7 linked regions of the Homo sapiens genome follow. The protein of the gene in region 4 purifies or fractionates together with the protein of the main gene of each other region. This does not show direct contact. Each region holds a gene or a part of one and is shown on either strand. Other genes may lie near its edges.

What was found.
Region 1: the proteins of PTDSS1 (region 4) and PADI3 purify together in Homo sapiens (affinity purification with mass spectrometry; one large-scale study listed by BioGRID and IntAct). This does not show direct contact.
Region 2: the proteins of PTDSS1 (region 4) and KSR2 purify together in Homo sapiens (co-immunoprecipitation; one large-scale study listed by IntAct). This does not show direct contact.
Region 3: the proteins of PTDSS1 (region 4) and PCYOX1 purify together in Homo sapiens (affinity purification with mass spectrometry; one large-scale study listed by BioGRID and IntAct). This does not show direct contact.
Region 5: the proteins of PTDSS1 (region 4) and ALDH1A1 purify together in Homo sapiens (affinity purification with mass spectrometry; one large-scale study listed by BioGRID and IntAct). This does not show direct contact.
Region 6: the proteins of PTDSS1 (region 4) and NTHL1 purify together in Homo sapiens (affinity purification with mass spectrometry; one large-scale study listed by BioGRID and IntAct). This does not show direct contact.
Region 7: the proteins of PTDSS1 (region 4) and ASAH1 purify together in Homo sapiens (affinity purification with mass spectrometry; one large-scale study listed by BioGRID and IntAct). This does not show direct contact.

The regions. Positions count from the first base shown.
Region 1 is NC_000001.11:17,280,098-17,282,415, forward strand, and holds part of PADI3 (protein-arginine deiminase type-3), read left to right. Parts: intron 1-252; coding exon 253-332; intron 333-573; coding exon 574-699; intron 700-2,318. UniProt on the Homo sapiens protein: Catalyzes the deimination of arginine residues of proteins.
Region 2 is NC_000012.12:117,528,491-117,531,990, forward strand, and holds part of KSR2 (kinase suppressor of Ras 2), read right to left. Parts: intron 3,218-3,500; coding exon 3,176-3,217; intron 2,524-3,175; coding exon 2,451-2,523; intron 568-2,450; coding exon of another isoform or gene 507-567; exon of another isoform or gene 56-506; intron 1-55. UniProt on the Homo sapiens protein: Location-regulated scaffold connecting MEK to RAF. Has very low protein kinase activity and can phosphorylate MAP2K1 at several Ser and Thr residues with very low efficiency (in vitro).
Region 3 is NC_000002.12:70,275,137-70,278,410, reverse strand, and holds part of PCYOX1 (prenylcysteine oxidase 1 precursor), read right to left. Parts: coding exon 3,241-3,274; intron 2,898-3,240; coding exon 2,745-2,897; intron 1,678-2,744; coding exon 1,019-1,677; 3' UTR 1-1,018. UniProt on the Homo sapiens protein: Prenylcysteine oxidase that cleaves the thioether bond of prenyl-L-cysteines, such as farnesylcysteine and geranylgeranylcysteine. Only active against free prenylcysteines and not prenylcysteine residues within prenylated proteins or peptides.
Region 4 is NC_000008.11:96,334,902-96,337,495, reverse strand, and holds the end of PTDSS1 (phosphatidylserine synthase 1), read right to left. Parts: 3' UTR 501-2,594; downstream 1-500. UniProt on the Homo sapiens protein: Catalyzes a base-exchange reaction in which the polar head group of phosphatidylethanolamine (PE) or phosphatidylcholine (PC) is replaced by L-serine. Catalyzes mainly the conversion of phosphatidylcholine.
Region 5 is NC_000009.12:72,911,554-72,915,053, reverse strand, and holds part of ALDH1A1 (aldehyde dehydrogenase 1A1), read left to right. Parts: intron 1-2,931; coding exon 2,932-3,096; intron 3,097-3,500. UniProt on the Homo sapiens protein: Cytosolic dehydrogenase that catalyzes the irreversible oxidation of a wide range of aldehydes to their corresponding carboxylic acid.
Region 6 is NC_000016.10:2,042,078-2,044,834, reverse strand, and holds part of NTHL1 (endonuclease III-like protein 1), read left to right. Parts: intron 1-34; coding exon 35-205; intron 206-1,108; coding exon 1,109-1,268; intron 1,269-2,757. UniProt on the Homo sapiens protein: Bifunctional DNA N-glycosylase with associated apurinic/apyrimidinic (AP) lyase function that catalyzes the first step in base excision repair (BER), the primary repair pathway for the repair of oxidative DNA damage.
Region 7 is NC_000008.11:18,057,800-18,060,107, forward strand, and holds part of ASAH1 (acid ceramidase isoform a preproprotein), read right to left. Parts: intron 1,905-2,308; coding exon 1,773-1,904; intron 1,666-1,772; coding exon 1,542-1,665; intron 1,093-1,541; coding exon 1,036-1,092; intron 1-1,035. UniProt on the Homo sapiens protein: Lysosomal ceramidase that hydrolyzes sphingolipid ceramides into sphingosine and free fatty acids at acidic pH.

The sequences.
Region 1 (2,318 bases), on a different chromosome or scaffold from region 4:
AACTCAAATAAAGGTCTCAGTTCATTCCACTGTGGCAACCAGACCCTCCCACTCCTTATACCCCAAGATGTGCACAGTGGCCAAGGCAAGCTCAGACAGGTGGAACCCACCCAAGGCCTGGGAAAGTCAGAGGCTGCTGACTCGGCAAGACCATTAGCTGTGAACTTGGCTCCTGCCTGTCTGCTTCCCTAAGCAGGTGGTCCTCACGTTGGTGCTGTCCCTGTCCTTCTCTTTCATCTCTCTCCTTCACAGATGATGAGCAGGTCAAGACCATCTCCATCAACCAGGTGCTCTCCAATAAAGACCTCATCAACTACAATAAGTTTGTGCAGGTACAAGGGCTGTGGTGTACCTGTGGGCTGTGATTTGGGAGTAGGCGGGGCTGGAGGCAAGGATGGGATACAGACATCTGAGGCTAACTGTTCATGAAAGCTCAGGTTAGAACAGGCCCAGACAGAGGGGTCCCAACACCCTCTTTTGACCCAGAAGAAGTGAGGGGAGCGACAGGATGCCTTGGTGCCCCCAAAACACACTGGCAAGGTGTCCCCAACTCTGGCCCTCCCCTGCCCCCAGAGCTGCATCGACTGGAACCGTGAGGTGCTGAAGCGGGAGCTGGGCCTGGCAGAGTGTGACATCATTGACATCCCACAGCTCTTCAAGACCGAGAGGAAAAAAGCAACGGCCTTCTTCCCTGACTTGGTGAGGGCACTACCCATGACTCCTTTGCCAAATCAGGCTGCAAACCTCTAAGCTCGAGAGAGGAAAAATGTCTGGTCACAGTCATATTTAGGATTGTGGTGGCCAGTGGGGGTGGCAGGGAGAATCAGGGGTCCTATGGTGCTCCTCAGAAGGGCTTCTAGCTGGCTGACCACCATGGTCCCTGTGGAATGCTTGCTGGCCAAGCCCTGGCCCAAGGGGCATCAGGGAAGGGGTCCACTTGACATTTGTGGAGTGAATGAATGATTGCATGAGGTCACGTGTGCAAAGCACATGGCATCAGCTGGGAACCCAGATGCTCATTCTGCTCTCTTCCTCCCAGCTTGTGGCTCTTCATCCATCCCACATGTATTTAGGGTGTCCTGTGGCAGATGCAGAGATGATTAAGAATGCCCCCTGCTCTCAAGGGACTTTCAGTCTAATCGGTTGAGAGGGAAACTCTTCCCTTCTCTGAGGACATGTCCCAGTGATCTATTTTGTAGGATAAGGCGATGTGGCAGTTTGGAGGTGAGACAAAGCACTTCCAGCCTAAGAGGTAGAACTGGAGATCCAGGAAGTCTTCATGGAAGAAGTGGCTTTTGACTGAGCCTTGAGGGCTTTGCCTCTGATGCTTGTAAATCTTTTTTTCTTTTTTTCTTTTTTTTTTTTTGAGACGGAGTCTCACTCTGTTGCCCAGGCTGGAGGGCAGTGGCACAATCTCACTCACTGCAACCTCAGCCTCCAGGGTTCAAGCGATTCTCCTGCCTCAGCCTCCTGAGTAGCTGGGATTGTGGGATTGCAGGCGTGCACCACCACGCCCGGCTAATTTCTGTATTTTTAGTAGAGATGGAGTTTTGCCATGTTGGCCAGGCTGGTCTTGAGCTCCTGACCTCCGGTGATCCACCAGCCTCGGCCTCCCAAAGTGCTGGGATTACAGGCGGAAGCCACCGTGCTTGGCCTGCTTCTAAATCTTGAGCTTGCCTTTGAAACACCTGGACAGGTGGGGCCCCACCCCAGCGGTCCTGATTCAGCAGGTCTAAAGCACGGCCCGAGGCACTGCTGCCGCGCTAACAAACACCCAGGTGGTGCTGATGCTGCCTTTTAGAGGAACACAGTTTGAGTAGCACTGCTATAGGTCACCCAGCTCCCCTCTCCACTCCTCCCCACCTCATCCCCTAAAAGAACTCAATTTGCCCATTGTCAGAGCCTTGTGGGGAACCTGTCCACACCACCATTGCTTCATGCCCCGCTTTTTCCTTCCTCTTTTCAGGCAACATTTTGCCCTCCGCTTGCAAAGCCTCTTTTCACTCCCCTTCCTTCCTGTTCGAGGCTATCTTGTAATTATATATGTGCCCCAAGAAGTTTGTGCAATGATTCAGGTTCTTGTGTTCGCAAGAGACAGAGTCCTACTGAAGCCAGCTTCAGCCAGAGGGAGTCTTAATATAAGGACACCAGAAACCTGAGGGCAGGATAGCTGCAGCAGAGCCTGGAACCCTCTCTGTTTCTGTGTCTACATCATTCATTCTCTCTCTTTCTCTCACCCTCTCCACCTCCTACTTCTTCTCCCTCTTCTTCCAGCTTGGCTTCCTTTGCTTCTCTGTTCCTGGGGACAAAGATGAGTA
Region 2 (3,500 bases), on a different chromosome or scaffold from region 4:
ATTGCAGGAAGTGGCTGACTCCACAGAGTCAATCCACTTGCTGGAGGGGGTCCTGGTGAAAGAGTCTGAAAGACCACAAGAACTAAAAGAAGGAGAAAGAAAGGTCAACCACAAAGTGGCATTCGCCATGGTATTAACCAATTATTCATAGCACAGCCTGGGAAAGTGGAATGAACCTGCACGATGACAGCTGACATGCTGAGAACTTGATGCCCTGGGGGAGACTTGGCTGGGACAATGCAGCTGGAGTCCCTCCTCATGCCCAAAACCAAAACAGGCCACCCTCCTCTCTGCATCAAGGCGTGATTCCAGCAGCCAGGGCTATTCAAGTATTTCCTTCTGCAAAGAGTTGTCATCACTCCGCGCACATTTAAGCAGATCGCAAGCAGCTATTGACTCTGTTTTTCGCTGGTACCTCTGGACTGTCAGTTAATAACCTGGAGTTCATCTTGCACAAATTGTAGAATTGGTTTATGTGAAGCAGAGAAATGATCTCGAGCTAGATGTCAGCACCATATCCCCCGGCAAGTTGCTGCTCCTTTGATTTCAGAGATGTACCATGTAAGTCTTTAACAAAGTCCATAAGACCAGTCAGAAAAGATGAAGCAGTTAGGGGACCCAGAAGAAAAACTAAGTAGGCACAAAGGTGAGTTAGGAAACTGGTCAAATCCTAGCAAGCCCCAGGCTTCCATCGCAACCAAAGAAGTTAAGGAGGTGACTTTGTGACATCACTTTTTTCTTCTTTAGACAGAGTCTCCCTCTGTTGCCCAGGCTGGGGTGCAGTGGCACAATCCCACCTCACTGAACCTCCACCTCCTGGGTTCAAGCAATTCTCCTGCCTCAGCCTCCCAAGTAGCTGCGATTACAGTTGTGTGCCACCACGCCTGACTAATGTTTGTATTTTTAATATAGACGGGGTTTCACCAGGTTGGCTAGGCTGGTCTCCAACTCCTGACCTCAGGTGATCCTCCTACCTTGCCCTCCCAAAGTGCTGGGATTACAGGCATGAGCCACTGCGCCTGGCCAAGGTGACTTCACTTCTGCTGCACAAGCAATAAACCACCTGAAAAGAGGGTCTGTTTCCTAAGGATGCTATGCACAAAGATGTTCATTGCAGCATTATTTACAACAATGAAATATGGGAAGCAATGTAAAATCCAGCAATAGGAAAATGGTTAAGAAAATTATTCTACATCAATATGTCATTTTACACCCATTAAAAACAATATCAGACAGGTGCAGTGGCTCATGCCTGTAATCCCAGCACTTTGGGAGGCTGAGGTGGAATGATCACTTGCACCTAGGAGTTTGAGACCCACCTAGGCAACATGGTGAATCCCTGTCTCTACAAAAATAAAAAATTAAAAAAAAAATACAAAAATTAGTTGGGTGTGGTGGCACACACCTGTAATCCCAGCTACTCGGGAGGCTGAGCTGGGAGGATCATTTGAGCCCAGGAGGCTGAGGCTGCAGTGAACCGTGATTGCACCACTGCATTGCAGCCTGGGTGACAGAGTGAGACTCTGTCTCAAAACAAACAAACAAAAAACAAAAACCAACAATGTCTATGGAGAGGCTAAAATAATATTCATAAAATGTGATGTTTGGCATAAAGATAACAAAGCAGGATGGTAGCTGCTTGCATATATTGTGGGTCATAACTATGTAAAATATAAATGGAAAGAACACACATAGAAGTTTTAACAGTGGTGAGATCATGAGTGATTATTTTGCCTTTCCCTTTTTAAAGAATAGCCCACATTTTCCAAAATTAGCTTATATTATTTTTATAATAATATAAACCAGAGGTTAGCAAATTTCTTTCTGCAAAGGGTCATAGAGTAAATATTTTTGGCTTTGCAAGCCATACAGATTATGTTACAACTACTCGATTCTGCTGCTGCATGGAGAAAGCAACCATGCACAATACATTGTAAACAAATAGGCATGGCTGTGTTCCAATAAAACTTTAAATAAAAACAAGCAGGAGGTTGGATCTGTCCCATGGGCTATAGTTTGCTGATTCCATAAACCTCAATGAGACTTTTGAAAGTTATTCCATGTTCAGTGACATGGAATAATTGCCCTTTCATTAAGTACTAGCTATCACCCGGGGAAAGTTTTCTTCCTAATCACAGGGAGGTTATGGGTCCTTAGGAAACGGTCCAGCCCCTGGAAATTGCATTTGACAGGCAGGGTCAGAGACACAAGGCATAGCTGCTCGTGAGGAACAGCATTGCCTCTCTCTCCATCTCTCTGTCTGAGCTGTCACGCCCTTTCTCTTTGCCTAAGTTATTCCCTATGTCTCTCTGACCCCCTTGTACATCTCCCTCTGCCCCCAACTCCATCAGTTCCAGGAAGAGAAGGAAAGAAGATAGGGAACCTGAGTGGATTGTAGGGCCAGGGCTGGGAAGCTTGGGAAAGGGGGAAGATGTCTCTGTCTCACTTACATTGGATTCGAGGTCACCGGATGCAGGATGACCTGGGGCGCCCGGGTCGGCGTCTCCGGCACCGGCACCACATCTGAAAACCAGAGATTGAACACTCAGAAAAAAAATGTGAAGTCCACAACCCCCGCAAAGGCCTGATTCCTGGGCGACATGGCAGCCAATTTTTCACCAGATCTTGGATCTCTGCCCTTGGCCAATCTCCTTTCTCCTTTCCTGGACCACCTGGACTCTACCTGCTCAGCTGGACCAGGGTTCTGGATGACATCCTCAACAAAATTCCTCATTGTTGAATAGGGGGCTGCCAGAACCCTCAAATATCTAGCCTGAAGCATTCATTGGTCATCTCTGAATCTTTCTTTCTCCTGGGTTCCCTTTGGGATGATAAAGCCCCTTGGTTTCACATCCTCTCAGTACCCAGCTCAGGACCCTATGACCATCTCTTTCCTGCCACATGGCTCTAGACCCCTCCTCACCCTCGCCCAGTGTTCTACAGCACTCCACCCTCTCAGGCCTTTCCACGGTGCCTTGGGACCTCCTTGGGTCCCACTGTGCCCACTCTTTCTTCTCCACTTCCATGTTCAGCCATTATCCTGGAGTGTGGTGACTCCACTACCCTCTTTGATCTTAGGCACCCCCACAACATCTGCCTCCATTCATCCCAGAAACTCCTGCAATGCAGCGGGGCTTGTTCAGAAGGGGCTGCTTCCAGCTCACATGAAACTCACCTGGGAAGATGAACTGCTGCTTGTATTTGTAGTAGTGGGATGCTTGCAAAAGAAAGAAAACATCAAAGTGAGTGTCCCCAGGGAGACATCGCTTCAGGGACCAGATTGAGCTCTTACAGCCACCACATGGTCATTCTCTGCCCACCTTCAAGAGTTTCCATACTTCTGCAGACATCCCTGCAGACAAGGGACTGCAAACATGTGTAAAGAAACCAGAACTCTAAACATCCATGCCGACCCTCCCATCTGACATCTCACACTCCCTAAAATCAGACTGCTCCAACTCAAACAGACATTCTGACTACAATACCATTTTTGTGAAATG
Region 3 (3,274 bases), on a different chromosome or scaffold from region 4:
GATACAGATTGGGCTTCTTAGGACTTCTAAGGCACTAAAACCCTTTGTAGGCATTTTCACACCCACATTGGTGATTCCCAACCCTGGGTGCACATTAGAAACTTTAAATAGCTACAATGCTAAGGTCCTATCCTCAGTCTTTGAATCTGAATCTCTGGTTATGGGGGGGTCTCAGTATTTTTAAAAGCTCCTGAAGTGAGGATTTAATACTAGAATGCCAGTTTCTTAATTCAGTAGCCCATATTTGCTTTTCATTTTACTTGAGATTTTTGTTTAACATCTTCAAGTTACATTACTAAGACTTCTAAATTTCACCCCTAATCAAATCAAGACAGAAGAATCAAAAGACAACATTCTGAAAGTCAAGGCTTTAGGCATGGGCACACGTACTTCAAACCGGTATGAAATTACTAAGAGTCAGGCATAAGACACCAGCTCCCATAAATTTTATCTGACTGAAGATTATATCTAGCTGTAAAATTCAAAAGGACTACTCCCCAACTAAGATGTCTTTAAGTTCTCCCTCAGGTACTCACCTTAAAATGCTCTACAATTTTGATCAAAATCCAGCGCGCCACTCCCAGACCTACTGAATCAGAATCTTCAAGAGAGGAGCTTGAGAATCCATATGGTTTAACAAACTCCAGGTGATTATTTTTATTTACTTTTGAGACGGAGTTTTGCTCGTGTTGCTCAGGCTGAAGTGCAATGGTGAGATTGGCTCACTGCAACCACCACCTCCTAACTCCAGGTGATTCTTATTATCAGACAAGTTTAAGAAAAACTCCTAATGGATAGTGAAAGAATACTTAAGAAATTTTGGAGATGGCATAAGTGCAATAGCTATACCTTCACACTTAATTAGAACCGTGTGTTTTCCTATGACCAGCAGGGATTACTTTTATTAAACAATGATAATGGCAAAATATCTGGTTCAAAATCATCTCTGCTCAGATTTTGTTCTTTTTTGCCACTGATAGTCATTTGGAACTAGGAGGGGAAAAAGGAGTGTGTCACTTCATAGTTCAGTTTTAAGTTTCTCATATAAGCCATCCTGATCAATCATGTCTGTGTGCCCGTTCCAGCGGTGATAGGCAAGGAGTGCAGCGTTGTGGGCTGCAATGGCACTCATCTCCATGGCACTTGCTGCACACTCTATGCCATTGAGGTAATAAAGTCGATCATGGAGAATGATAGAGGGGCATTTCTCCGGGGGCTTATAGTGAGGATATGCAAGCCATGGCTTCTTCACAGCATAATCATAGGACAGAAAGAGCTTTAAAATTTGTGCTTTAGTAAGAGTTTCTTGGGAAAAGATCTTCCAAACATATGTTCCATCTGTTGATGGCTCAGGATCTTCCTTTTCTCTCACAGAGGGCACAATCCCAATACTGTTAATGAACAAATCTGAATTATCAGTGGTTAAAACTGTATTAAGGCCAAATTTATCTATGGGTCTAGAGCTAAAGATAGATGTATTCAATTCCCCCTTAACTAAAGTTGTCACTATATGTTGATAATATTGATGGAATTCCTCAATTGGAGGATCAAAGTTGAGAAAAGTAATATTCGACATTTTTCGATTCAACGGAGTGGCCACCAAGACGATGTCATAGAAGTCTGAACGAGTCTCAGTTCCAATTTGGTAGACCACTTCATACATCTTTGTTGGATTTCCTAGAGGAAATAAGGAGGCATATATTTGTTTAGTGTTTCTAACATACCTTCTAAAAATAATTGTATACCTTCTTCATAATTTCTCTATAATTCTAAAGAATTGAAGAAGTTATATCCCTTAAGATAGTTGTCCCTTGCATTTTTATTACATTGAGGCCAATTTCTTATTCAGAATGTCAGTAAGTACAAAATACAGAATTTTTACTTTTGAAGGTAAGATTATCTTTCGGCCGGGCATGGTGGCTCACACCTGTAATCTCAGCACTTTGGGAGGCCGAGGTGGGTGGATCACGAGGTCAGGAGATCGAGACCATCCTGGCTAACATGGTGAAACCCCGTCTCTACTAAAAATACAAAAAATTAGCCGAGCGCGGTGGCAGGCGCCTATAGTCCCAGCTACTCGGGACGCTGAGGCAGGCGCCTATAGTCCCAGCTACTCGGGACGCTGAGGCAGGAGAATGGCGTGAACCCGGGAGGCGGAGCTTGCAGTGAGCCGAGATAGGCCACTACAGTCCGGCCTGGGCAAAAGAGCGAGACTCCATCTCAAAAAAAAAAAAGATTATTTTTCAAATCCAAGGAGTGATGCCACAGCACTTAACTACACTGGGGAATTTTTTTTTTTTTTTTTTTTTTTTAGATGGAGTCTCACTCCGTCACCCAGGCTAGAGTGCAGTGGTGTGATCTTGGCTCACTGCAACCTCTGCCCCCTGGGTTCATGTGATTCTCCTGCCTCAGCCTCCCGAGTAGCTGGGATTACAGGCACCTGCCACCACGCCCGGCTAATTTTTTGTATTTTTAGTAGAGACAGGGTTTAACTATGTTGGCCAGGCTAGTCTTGATCTCCTGACCTCAGGTGATCCACCCTCCTTGGCCTCCCAAAGTACAGGGATTACAGGCATGAGCCACCGTGCCTGGCCCATTGGGGAATATTTCTATATGGTACAATATATACAATTTCAAGTTTCATCATTTTAGAACTGAGTAAGAGATGACAGAAGAGAAGTGTTTCTCCCTGAGCAATCATTTTCTGCAGGGGATATCAGGAACAATAAGAAATTCAAGCTTACCTGTGTACTTGGTCTTTGTTTTCTCCTCGATGTACATTACTGAGCCAGATATAAGATTGCTTTTGGATGCCTGCAGAAGCCCTGAGCAAACAAGTTTATTGCCACCTTCTACTGCCCAAAGGCCAGAATCAGAACAGGACAGTGACACCGCCCCTGTCAATAGGAGGAAAAATGTGTTTTAATTCTGACTTTTTGTAAGAGGCTCTCTACCCACTCTCCCTTCCCAATTACATGTTCTACTCCAAATGTCTCTAGACATTGCTAAATGGCCCCTGGGAGCAAAATCTCCCCCAGTTAAGAATTACTGAACTAATGAAAGCTAAAGACCCTCTCCCCCTAAAAATGCACATCTACATACGCACAATTTTGCTAACAATGTCTGAGGTTCACAGAGAAAAGTAGCCTCCAATCCACAGCCTAAAGTCAGGAACCACCATAGCATCAGGTAAGCCCCTCTGTGAACTAATGTCCACCACTGTTTCAAGCCCTGGCTTACCCACAAAGGCATTGATGTCCGTGCTTTGGCCATA
Region 4 (2,594 bases):
ACTTTCTGAAATGGACTAAAGGCATTTTTTAGTGAACATGGAAGAAAAGGAAGATTTTTACAACGTAGCATTCCCACAACCTAAAAAAATTTCACATCCAACTGTTTTTTTATCTTCTTTGGTAGACATCAATGAAATAATTCCTTTAAATTCACAGAAGATAGCAAAATTAAAAAGCCATATTTATTTAATGCATCAAATACCAAAGTTCAATTAAGGAAACTATTGCAATCTTCACCTGAGATAGGCCCATCATCAGGTTAGAATAAAGTGTGATAAGGGGAAATGTTGTAAAAACCTCTTACGGCATAGCAACATGACTGCAGCCCACCAGTCTCAGCCATTACTGATACTGACCCTTGCAAAGAATCAAATCTCTAATATAATCCTGAGAATGTGCACACACATGTGAAGGAAAGAGGTGTATTATGTAATGGAACACTGATAGACAGACGTCTTAGCTCGCCTTACAGTTTTTTTTTTTTTTTTTTTTTTTTTTTGAGATAGTCTCGCTCTGTCGCCCAGGTTAGAGAGTGCGGTGGCGTGATCTCGGCTCACTGGAACCTCCACCTCCTGGGTTCAAGCATTTCTTCTGTCTCTGTCTCCCGAGTAGCTGGGACTACAGGTGCCTGCCACCATGCCCGGCTAATTTAAGTATTTTCAGCAGAGACAGGGTTTCACCATATTGGTCAGGCTGGTCTCAAACTCCTGACCTCAGGCGATCCACCCACCTCAGCCTCCCAAAGTGCTGGGATTACAGGCGTGAGCCCTGCGCCCGGCCAGCTCTCCTTACATCTTGATTTCAATCCTATAAATGGGAAATGGTAGGGAGCACTGTCTAGTCTACTGTGGGATTTCTAGTTGTCATAACAATAAGAACCATATAAACAACGCCCACCTGGTAAACATTAGGGTGGCCCAGGAACTCTGCAGCAGTCACTGAGCACATTCCAAAGAGCGGATGTTAACCCCCCAACCCCGTATTTTAAAGGGCTAGCTTCAGTCTGGCTGCCAATGGTTACATTTTTTCTTCCCCACCTTGTGTTTAGCCTCCCCTTCTGTGTCCAACCTCCTCCACTTCTCAATGACCCCAAGGGCCTCTGTAAGTGCAGGATTCTACCCAAAACCCTCCCAATTCCAAAGGGTGGGCCTTGGCATAAAGAGGCATCATTCCAGGGTGCTACACGGTGGCTTCTGAGGGAAGACCAAGAAGGCTGAACCTGTTGTATTTGGTAATGAATTTTGTTTTCTCCTGGGTTGGGTGAGCACCTTAGGAGCTTACTGTGGAAGCAGAGTCCTAGCGAAAATAAGACTGGCATTGATAGGATGTCTTGTATCATCAAAATGCTTAACAGGTCCATGAAACATCCTAGCATTGCTGTGAGAGTGGTTCCAAGGTTTCTATGAATGGTGGAAACAGACACAAACGAAATGTGGGAAGAAGCTTTGGGAAGACCAAGAATGAAAAAAAGGGAAAAGAACCTAACACTCAATGCAATGCTACTTAAGGAGAAAAATACATAAACCGTTCTTCAAGCTTTAGGTCCAAAACAATGTTCTCTCTTAAGAGGGTGGTTTGCAAACAGGGACCATGAGATAATTTACAATCAAATCATTTCAGATATTGAATGATGATTCTGAAACACGCATTCTATTTCCATCAATGTGAGGTTTATTTCCATAGAAACGGTGAAAAAAGTAGGCCAAACCCAGCAGTATGGCTTCTAAAAGGAATAGCAGCTGTGGTTCTGGCCAGCCATGGAAAGCACTGGTTTTGTAACTACTATAGTAAAGAGCTCTGACTGAAGGGAAATAGAAAGTTTCAACTCAAAGAAAGGGCATGGAAAGTATCTGAGAACTTTCCTGGCTGTTTCTTACAAAGCCATGGAGAAAAAATCATCTCCTGTGCACCCTGCTCTTCACAATGCCACAGTAAAGTCGAATTCACCACCTGCGAAACAGCTGCCTCCTGTAGGCTGGCCTCAGAGGAAGCACACATGCTCCATCAGTTGCAACAAGGCGAAAGTCAGAAGAGTGTGAAAGTGTCAGGCCCAGTGCTCCCGGAAAATGAACCCGGAAACACTCAGTGAGGCACCACCGGTGTGAGAAAGAAGAGACAGGTGTCTTCTCCAATGGGCACAAGTATGTCATGCTTAGAAAAGCAGAACACAGGATGAAACAAAACATATTTATTTGCAAAGAAAGATCATGTTTAAATTGTACCTGTGTTTAAAAATGGCCTCTTTGATGGGTTATAAAAGTGCAGGCAGGTTTTATGAAACACGCACTTTGCCTCTCTTCTATCCTTTTGTGGGAAGCAGGCAGATGCTGGCTGGAGGACATTTGAGAGCTCGGAGCTGAGGCTCATCACAGCCAAATCCCTCACTCACCAAGTGAGCGGAGCTGCCACTGACGCTTCTCCACTCCCGCAGAATCTACTATTGAGCACTGGGCCCCCTGAGGACAGGATGTGACCCTGGCTGGCATGATTCATTCAACCCGTTCATCTTGGAATTCTTTTGCAGAAAAAAAAAAAGTGACACTTCTATGGCTAAAGATTTCCTTAAAGAAGAAGAAACATCAGAACGAACCTT
Region 5 (3,500 bases), on a different chromosome or scaffold from region 4:
AATTTGGAGAAACAAAAGACTAAAAAGCCCTGGGCTCCTTTACCATTAAATATTCATCTATTGTTAGGAGAAAAAACTTACGCAAAGGGGATACTCACTCACTAAGCTTTAGCCTATTGCCTCATCCAGGGGTGGTTGAGTGAACTGAGGCTTTTAAATACAATGATGGAATCTTCCTCATTAAATATAACATCAAAAAGGTTATAGAAAAAATAATGGTCAAAACGATTTGTTTTAGGGGAAAAAATTAAAGTTTAAAAAAATTTGAACATTACAAATTATTTGGGGGTTAGAGCAATTACAAAATATATATATATACTTTGCATATTTGTATTATATCTGTGGATTCATGTGTGTATCTTTTTCATATTTCAAGTGATTTTCCTATTTGACTTTATAGAAAAAATATATATTGTCTTAAACTTGGAAAAATTAGTATTTTCATTTGAAACAGAAATTGTGATAGCCACATAAACGATACTAAAATTATCACAGAGTAGCACCTTATAATAGTGTGGAAAGATGGACTTTGGAGTTACAGTTATATAGGATTTAAACTGGATTTAAAATCCAGCCTCCCTGAAACTATTGTCTTATGTGTAGAATGTGCATAGAAACCTCAATCTTGAAGAATAATTCTGCAGTGCAATTGGATAATCTATAAAATGTATCCATCAGAGTGCTTGGTCCACATGCTCAAATGTCTAGTAAATAAATAAAAATTACATGCTTCCATTTATACCCATGGTGACAATTATCATACAGATCAATTACTTCTATATCTATTCATTGCTTTTGTTGATACATGGTTTCTGAATAATTTGAGAACATGTAAGTGCTTTTTCCCAATTCATCTTCTTTAACCCATTAAGCCTAAGGAATCAAAGAATTTACCCATTCAAACACCTTAAAATGTTTCCTTTGAGACTGTTACCATATCATGACCTACCTAATACATTTCATAGACTAGCCCATAGGCCAATGGCCCATCACATGAAAGAGCCCCAGCTACATCCTAGCATTATTGGACAGTCCCAGGTGTCCAGAAAGAAGGTCAAGTTTATATATGGTCAGCCTGATGCCTTCTGAAGAAGGTCTGTATTTGTGGTGAATCAAAATTAGCCAGACAAAACTGACCAGTCTCTAAGTAGAGCCTAATTTTTTGTTTGTAGTCCCAAGCTCCACCACAGTGTTCCTCAATCTTTCCTGTGCCCGGGGATTCAGTAGATCTGAGGTGGGGTCAAAGAAGCACATTTGGCTACCAAGTGATGCCACAACTGCTGGTTGTAGGACCACATTGTCGGTAGCAAGGCACTGAAATACAAAGGCCTGTAGTTTTATAAGTTAGCGACCATCTAAGTTTTCCAACAAATAAGGCTTTTCAGCCCTTTTCTCCAGTATGTATGCAGGGATTTGATTGGCACTGGTTATTCAACGTGGTCACAGACAGGAAAACATGACTTGGGAAATACATCTTGAAATAAAAACCAGATATCATGATGTTGAGGGCATAGTCAGATTAATATGTTCCAATAAGACAGAAAGCTTTATGTGGAGTGACATGGACCCTTGACTATTTATTGAGAAACTAGAATACCTTACCCAGGCAGAATTTATCTCACCCCACCCCTTAGTCTGCTACTATTCAACCTATGTAGTAATTTAAATATTTCTTCTTAACACTATTTTTTTCTTAATCTGCTGGAAATGAAGGAATATTTTCCTTCTGGGATATTATATTAAATATTGCACTAAAGACTGTTGAGCAACATTGTACCAAATATTGTGCCAAATTTTAGAAAATAGTTTCTAGTTTCAAATAGTGCTTAATCTAGTTAGATATGGGGGCTGAGCTGTATTCAGTTAGAAATAACTTTATGGAAGCTTTTTCTTGGCTTTGGAAGATAAAGAAGATTTGCAGAGTCAGAGAAGAGTAAGAGAAAGTGAAACATAAAACTTTTCAAGTAGTGGGAAGTTAAACCTACAAGAGCTTCCACCCTCCAACCCATCTTAGCTCCTAGATCTCCTGTTTTTCCTTTAATCCTTAACCCCTGCTACACCTGAGATAGGCAGCCCTCACCGGTTACTTGGAATCCAAGAGTCACCCAGTTATTCAATGTCACAAAATAGAAATTGAGACAAAAATTAGCCCCAGATTTCAGTGCTTGAAGAGGTACGTGTTCCTGGTGTTCACAACCAGAACTCCAAACTCATTTATTTTCCTTATAAAAATAGTGTTTAAATAAAGACGATTTAAGTTCTGTAATACTTGGCACATAGTTAGATGTGGCTCATTTAATGAAGCAGGATGGTGACATTCAGGACAGGCCAGAAATTGGAAGCAGATTTACTGACTGCCCCAGTGGGACCAGAACTGGGAAGGGTGCGCAGACTATGGTCAGAATGGGATATCCAAGGGCATCGGACAGGTCAGAGTGGGTGATTCAGAAATGGGGAGATCAAACAGAGGCTCGGGAGTCTTCTAAGAACAGTCTTAAAGCATCTGCTTCCCAACAGATCTAATTAAACTCAGTATCAAAGTTCTGTTTTTCTCTTTTCCCTCCTTTCATTTCAGCCGGGACAATAGTTTCCAGGTAAATGTATTTAGATTAACAGGCATTTCTTCCAGAGTGAATAAATGATGATTGTCATTTATGTGTTTTTTATGTGTTTGCAGTGCTGAATGCTTTCCTATATAACTATAAAACAAATGTTAAATACAAATATCTGTCTTCAAGAGATTTTCCCCTAAAAGTCATGAGAAGAAAATATATCCAAAGAATGAATCTGAACCTCTGTTAGCTGTTTCGATTCAATATTTGGTTTAATTGCAATATTTTAGCATTTTGAAGCCCTTGTTAACAGGCCCAGCAATGTGTTATCTTTACAAGTGACTACTTTTTTTCTTTTCATGTGATATTTTTCAAATAGATTGACAAGGAACAATATGATAAAATACTTGACCTCATTGAGAGTGGGAAGAAAGAAGGGGCCAAACTGGAATGTGGAGGAGGCCCGTGGGGGAATAAAGGCTACTTTGTCCAGCCCACAGTGTTCTCTAATGTTACAGATGAGATGCGCATTGCCAAAGAGGAGGTAAATGGCTTCATTCTGTTCTGTTCTTTTTGTTGCCATGTTTTGTCTGTTTGTGTGTATACAAAGTGTCACTTTAAAATTCCCAGCTCTTTGGAACATCTTTCCCTCTAAACCTTACTCTTTATTCTGTTCTTGATAGAGGTTTAAGTTATTTGTGATAGATACTAAAAAGTAGTAAGGGATCCATGGGGCCAGCCACAAATGTTCAGCCAACACAGATCTGGATGCTTAACAATTTTCAGGTGCTGCCTTCACAGCTTTAAAACAATGGAAAAGAATCCTGTCATTTGCAGCAACAACCTGGAAAATTTATGCTCCATGAAATATGACAGGCATAAAAAGACAAATACCGCAGGGTCTCACTTTTATGTGGGATCTCAAAGAGTAGAACTCATAGAAGCAGA
Region 6 (2,757 bases), on a different chromosome or scaffold from region 4:
GCCGCCACCCCGGTCCCTGTCACTGCACAAGCAGGTACGCAGGTACCAGGTGCTGCTGTCACTGATGCTCTCCAGCCAAACCAAAGACCAGGTGACGGCGGGCGCCATGCAGCGACTGCGGGCGCGGGGCCTGACGGTGGACAGCATCCTGCAGACAGATGATGCCACGCTGGGCAAGCTCATCTACCCCGTCGGTTTCTGGAGGGTGAGCCCTGCCTGTGGCAACGGGGGCCGGGTGGCAGTGGCCTGAGAGAGACCTCAGAAGGCTGAGGGGGGTGGCGACGGTGCAGGAAGTGAGGGTCAAGCATCTCAGGCTCGGGGGGTCCCCCTGAAGCCCCCCCCAGGCCGTGGGGCCCTGAGGCCTGACGCCCAGTCCCAGCAGCTCCTTGGCCTTCCTGTTCGCATCCTCCCTTCCTTCCTCTGCTTCCCCGCCTCGCCGCCTGCCCACCCTTCCTCACCGCCAAGGCTGCCTGCCCACCCGCCTTTCCCTTTGTTTACTGCTAGCCTCTCCCGGTGTGTCACCCCCTCCTGTCCAGAGCCCCTCACCCTCCAGGAGCCCTGGGGAGGCTGCTCCCCAACCCCGCCGAGCACTGGATGGTGGTGGGCGGATCTGTTGAAAGCAGCTTGGTGGGTGGGGCCGCTTCCCCTTGGCACCCGCGTGGGCCGCAGTTTCTCAGATGGGTTTTAAATAGCCCTCTCCACTCAGGCACAGGATGGGAACCACCCGGCAGGCCTGGCAGCTGGTGGGGAAGCCCCAGCTCCAGCCCTCCTTCCTGAAGGCGCAGGTGCAGCCAAGCCCCACTCCTGGGAGCGGCTGGCCTGCTTGGCCTGGCCTGGGTGCTGGCAGGGAATGACGGGCAGGGGAACCCCAGCCAGAGCCTACACGTGCATCATTGGCCCACACGGGTGGGAGGAGGGGGTCAGGCCTACCTTGGGCCTCCCTGCTGCCCTCCGCTTGTTCCCGCCTCCTGGGGGGCGGGGGCTGAGCTTGCACACGTCCTCAGCAGGTGCAGGTAGCTCTGGCCACCTGTGGGTCTCCTGGGGGCTGCATCCTCCCAGGTTGGGCTGTGCCCTTGCCTCCAAGGCTGAACCCACCCCTGTCTTTCAGAGCAAGGTGAAATACATCAAGCAGACCAGCGCCATCCTGCAGCAGCACTACGGTGGGGACATCCCAGCCTCTGTGGCCGAGCTGGTGGCGCTGCCGGGTGTTGGGCCCAAGATGGCACACCTGGCTATGGCTGTGGCCTGGGGCACTGTGTCAGGCATTGGTGAGTAGAGGAGGGCGGGGCTGGCTCCAGCCCACTGGCTGCTCTTGGGATTCCCCACATCCTTGTGACCTGTGACTCCACTTCCAGCATGCTGGTCCTCCACCCAGCCCATAGAGTCAGAAAGGTGCTCCCAGGGTGGAGCCAGGCCAGCCCCACTCAGAGACAGGTGCTGGGGCAGGAGGTCACATGGGCTGAGCACCTGCTCCGTGCAGGGCTCTGAGAGAGGCCCCGGAGCTGGACTCCATCTGCGTTGTATTCGGGAGAAATGTGGAGCGAGGAATTCCCCACTCGTGGAGTGGAAACCCTGATGGTTGTGCAGGGTGCTCTTGGGGCCTGGCTTGGGCCCAGGGCCTCTGGGAAGGCCCCCAAGGTCATCCTTCACCTGAGAGCTGCAGAGCAAGGTGGGGTGAGCCAGGCCAAGAGGAGGAAGTGTGTTCCCAGCAGAAGGAACAGCATCTGTAAAACCATGATGCGAGAGAGAGGGCCAGGAGCAGGAAGTTCTGGAATGAGATGAGGGCAGAGTGGGGAGGTAAGGACTGAGGAGGGAGGAGGAAGAGTATCCCCTCAGCAGGTGGGGTGGGGAGGGAGGTGCTGGGGGGAGAAAGGGGGAGGGTGGGGAGGGAGGCTCTGCGGGGACAGGAGGGGAATGGTAGGGAGGGAGGCGCTGGGGGAATGGGGGAGGAGGGTGGGGAGGGAGGCGCTGGGAGGATGGGGGGAGGGTGGAGAGGGAGGTGCTGCGGGGAGAAGAGGGGAGGGTTGAGAGGGAGAAGAGGGGAGGGTGGGGAGGGAGGCACTGGGGGGAGGGCCCTCCTTGAATCCTTTTCCCAGGTCCTGGTGTCTCTTCCTAGCACCGGAGGCTTCTTGGCAGTTGGGTGCAGACAGACCCCTGGGTTTGGGGTGGGGCTGCCTCCTCCTCGGCTTTGTCCAGAGGATTTGGGGCTCCTAAGGCCACACGCAGCCGGGCCCAGCCAGTCCAGAAACCAGGGCTTGGCCCTGCCCTCTGTGTGCCCCCATCCCAGGCCCCTTTGGGACTCCTGCAGGGGGCCTGTGCCGGAGGCGGGGGGCTTGCAGCACTTTCTGGTGGGCAAGAGGGCCACCAAGGGCCGGGGGCCTCTATTCTGAGCCGGGGCCACCTGGTGAGGCTGAACAGCCACAGCAGCCCCAAAGAGCCAGAGCCAGGCCAGGTGCGCCGGGGCAGGGCCTCCTCCCGACTGAGACTCCCAGCGTCACCACCTGCCAGCCTCTCAGTGGACACTTGAGCTTATCTGGGCGGCTGTCCTCAGCTGCCCGTGTCCCTGGGGTGCTGCATCGTGGTTGGGCAGGGCTGTGGGGGAAGGTCCCTGCCCGCAGCCAGGCAGGGAACGGGCTTTGGGAGCAGCGGGCACAAGAGACAGCCATGTGGAAATACCTCCCTCTCCAGGTGTCTGTGGGCCTGACCACCTGCAAGGAGACCCCAGGGCTGCCTCCTAGGGGTTCCCCGAAAGAGAAA
Region 7 (2,308 bases), about 78 Mb from region 4:
TCATATAAAATTAGCTAAAGTCTCACCAAATAACTAAAGCAAACAACTTCAACAGGATCACTGTTTCAGGTAATGAATATAAACAGGCTCAGGAAAGAATCTCCAGCTCCTTATAGGAGCTTATTCCTGACAGCACATTGCTCCACCCCCAATGCTTTAAGACTGCCTTAACCCTCCTTGACGCACAGCTGGCAGTCCTGGGAGACCTGCCGGTGTCCTATGGAGTAAAAACCGTGGAGCTTTGGCTATCCCTATCCTTAAAGCATTTCCAATACAGTGGGGGAAACTGCAGGCACCCAGATCACAAGGCACACACCCAAACACAAGTCACGAGATTGTGACTTGCTCAAAGATGGTATAGGCAAAACGCAAGTATGGCAGGGCCCGTGAACTGAAGGCAGGCTTCCTGTGAGAGCCAGGGTGACCTGGATGCTAAAGGCCGGAGGGATTTGTCCTGGCAGGGTAAAGGCGGCATGTTTACTTTAGGGAGAGCTGTGGAGAAGGACCAAGAAAAGAAGGAACAAATGGGAAAATTAGGGGGGCATATTCAGAACGTTCAGGGAATGATTGTTAGCGAGTGGTGGGATGATAGGAAACTTTTTGCATTTTTTTAAAACTACAGTGTAGGGAAAAGATAAACAGATGTAGTAAAGTTTAAGGGAAACCCGAACCCACCAAGACACAGAGCTCTGTCTGAAAATGGACTGCAGACTTTGTTTTGTTGACATTTAGGTGTTAGTTATATAGTGTGAGATTTTTAATAGATACCAATAAGAGTAAAATGCTAGCCTTAATTCAAATGCTATGTAAATAAAGCTATAAACAATATTCTGACCTATCAAGCCTCAGTGATCAATTTCTTTCTTGTATTCCAAAATACAGTTTTAGCCACACAAAAACATTTTTTAATAAAAAATCAGTCCTAAGCTGAACACACCTTTTGTGCTCAAACTGATCAAAGATAACAGAGAAAGATAAAACATAGGGCCAAATTCTTTCCCTAAAAGGCAAATATACATATAACATTTAAAATACCTTGTTGAGGACAGGTTTTGTTGACAGGACATCATACATGGTTTCAAATGAGATATTCTAAAACACAAGAAAATAGTTTTGTTCAGTAAGTTAAATACAGAAGCCAACAGCCTTATCTACACACATGGGCCACCAGAAACCAAGACATTCTTTAATCAACCTCCCCTCCATCCCCGCAGTGGAGTTTCTGTGGGAGTCACTGTTAGAAACACAGGTAACAGTTTTAATGGATTACTTTCCTCTCTCTCCTTCCCCTTTTTTAAATTCTTGCCTGTTTGTTATTCAACTTCAGAGTGGTATCCAGCATTAGAACCAGAAAAGGAAAGTACAGCACAATTTTGCTCTTTAAGTTAAGAAAACGAAACAAAAAAATCAGTGGAGAGTGGCTAGAGATACTATGAAAAATAGGACGTTTATAAATTACTTGAAGGCCAAAGAAAAATGCCAGAACCAAGGGAATCTTTAATGGCAACAGTTTCTTTCTATAGATGACCCTGCAAAGGTACCTCTTGGCTGGTGCGGTTCAGACACATCTTTGCAGGCGTTCTGCGATCATCAAGGAAGAAGGGATGTTTCCAACGGTCATAATTTGTTTGTACCACATACCATCTACCCTGCTTAGCATCGAGTCTAGATACAAAAGGAGAGATTCCCTCTTAGGCTACATGCCTTAAAACTCAAAGTATATCAGTGTATGCTTTTGTTTCTACTTCTTTTGCTTTAACAAACCTACTTACTCATATACATCCAATGATTCCTTTCTGTCTCGTGTAATCACACAACCTTCCCCAGACTGGTTGCCTCCCAGGATAAAGTAGGCTGGGGCCAATATCTTGGTCTTGGTCAATAAATTCTTGGCTTCTTCATAACTATATAGAAACATTTAAAAAGAAAAATGAAACTTTTTTTTAATTTTAGTAAATAACTTCATTTATTTTTAAATTTTACTTTAAGTTCTGGGACACATGTGCTGAACGTGCAGGTTTGTTACATAGGTACACACGTGCCATGGTGGTTTGCTGCACCCATCAACCCATCATCTAAGTTTCAAGCCCTACATGCATTAGGTATTTGTCCTAATGCTCTCCCTCCCCTTTCACCCCACCCCCTGACAGGCCCTGGTGCGTGATGTTCCCCTCCCTGTGTTCACGTGTTCTCTTTGTTCAGCTCTCACTTATGAGTGAGAACATGCAGTGTTCGGTTTTCTGTTCCTGTGTTAGTTTGCTGAGGATGATGGTGGGAAACATTTTTAGATGACTTAGAACGGAAATGT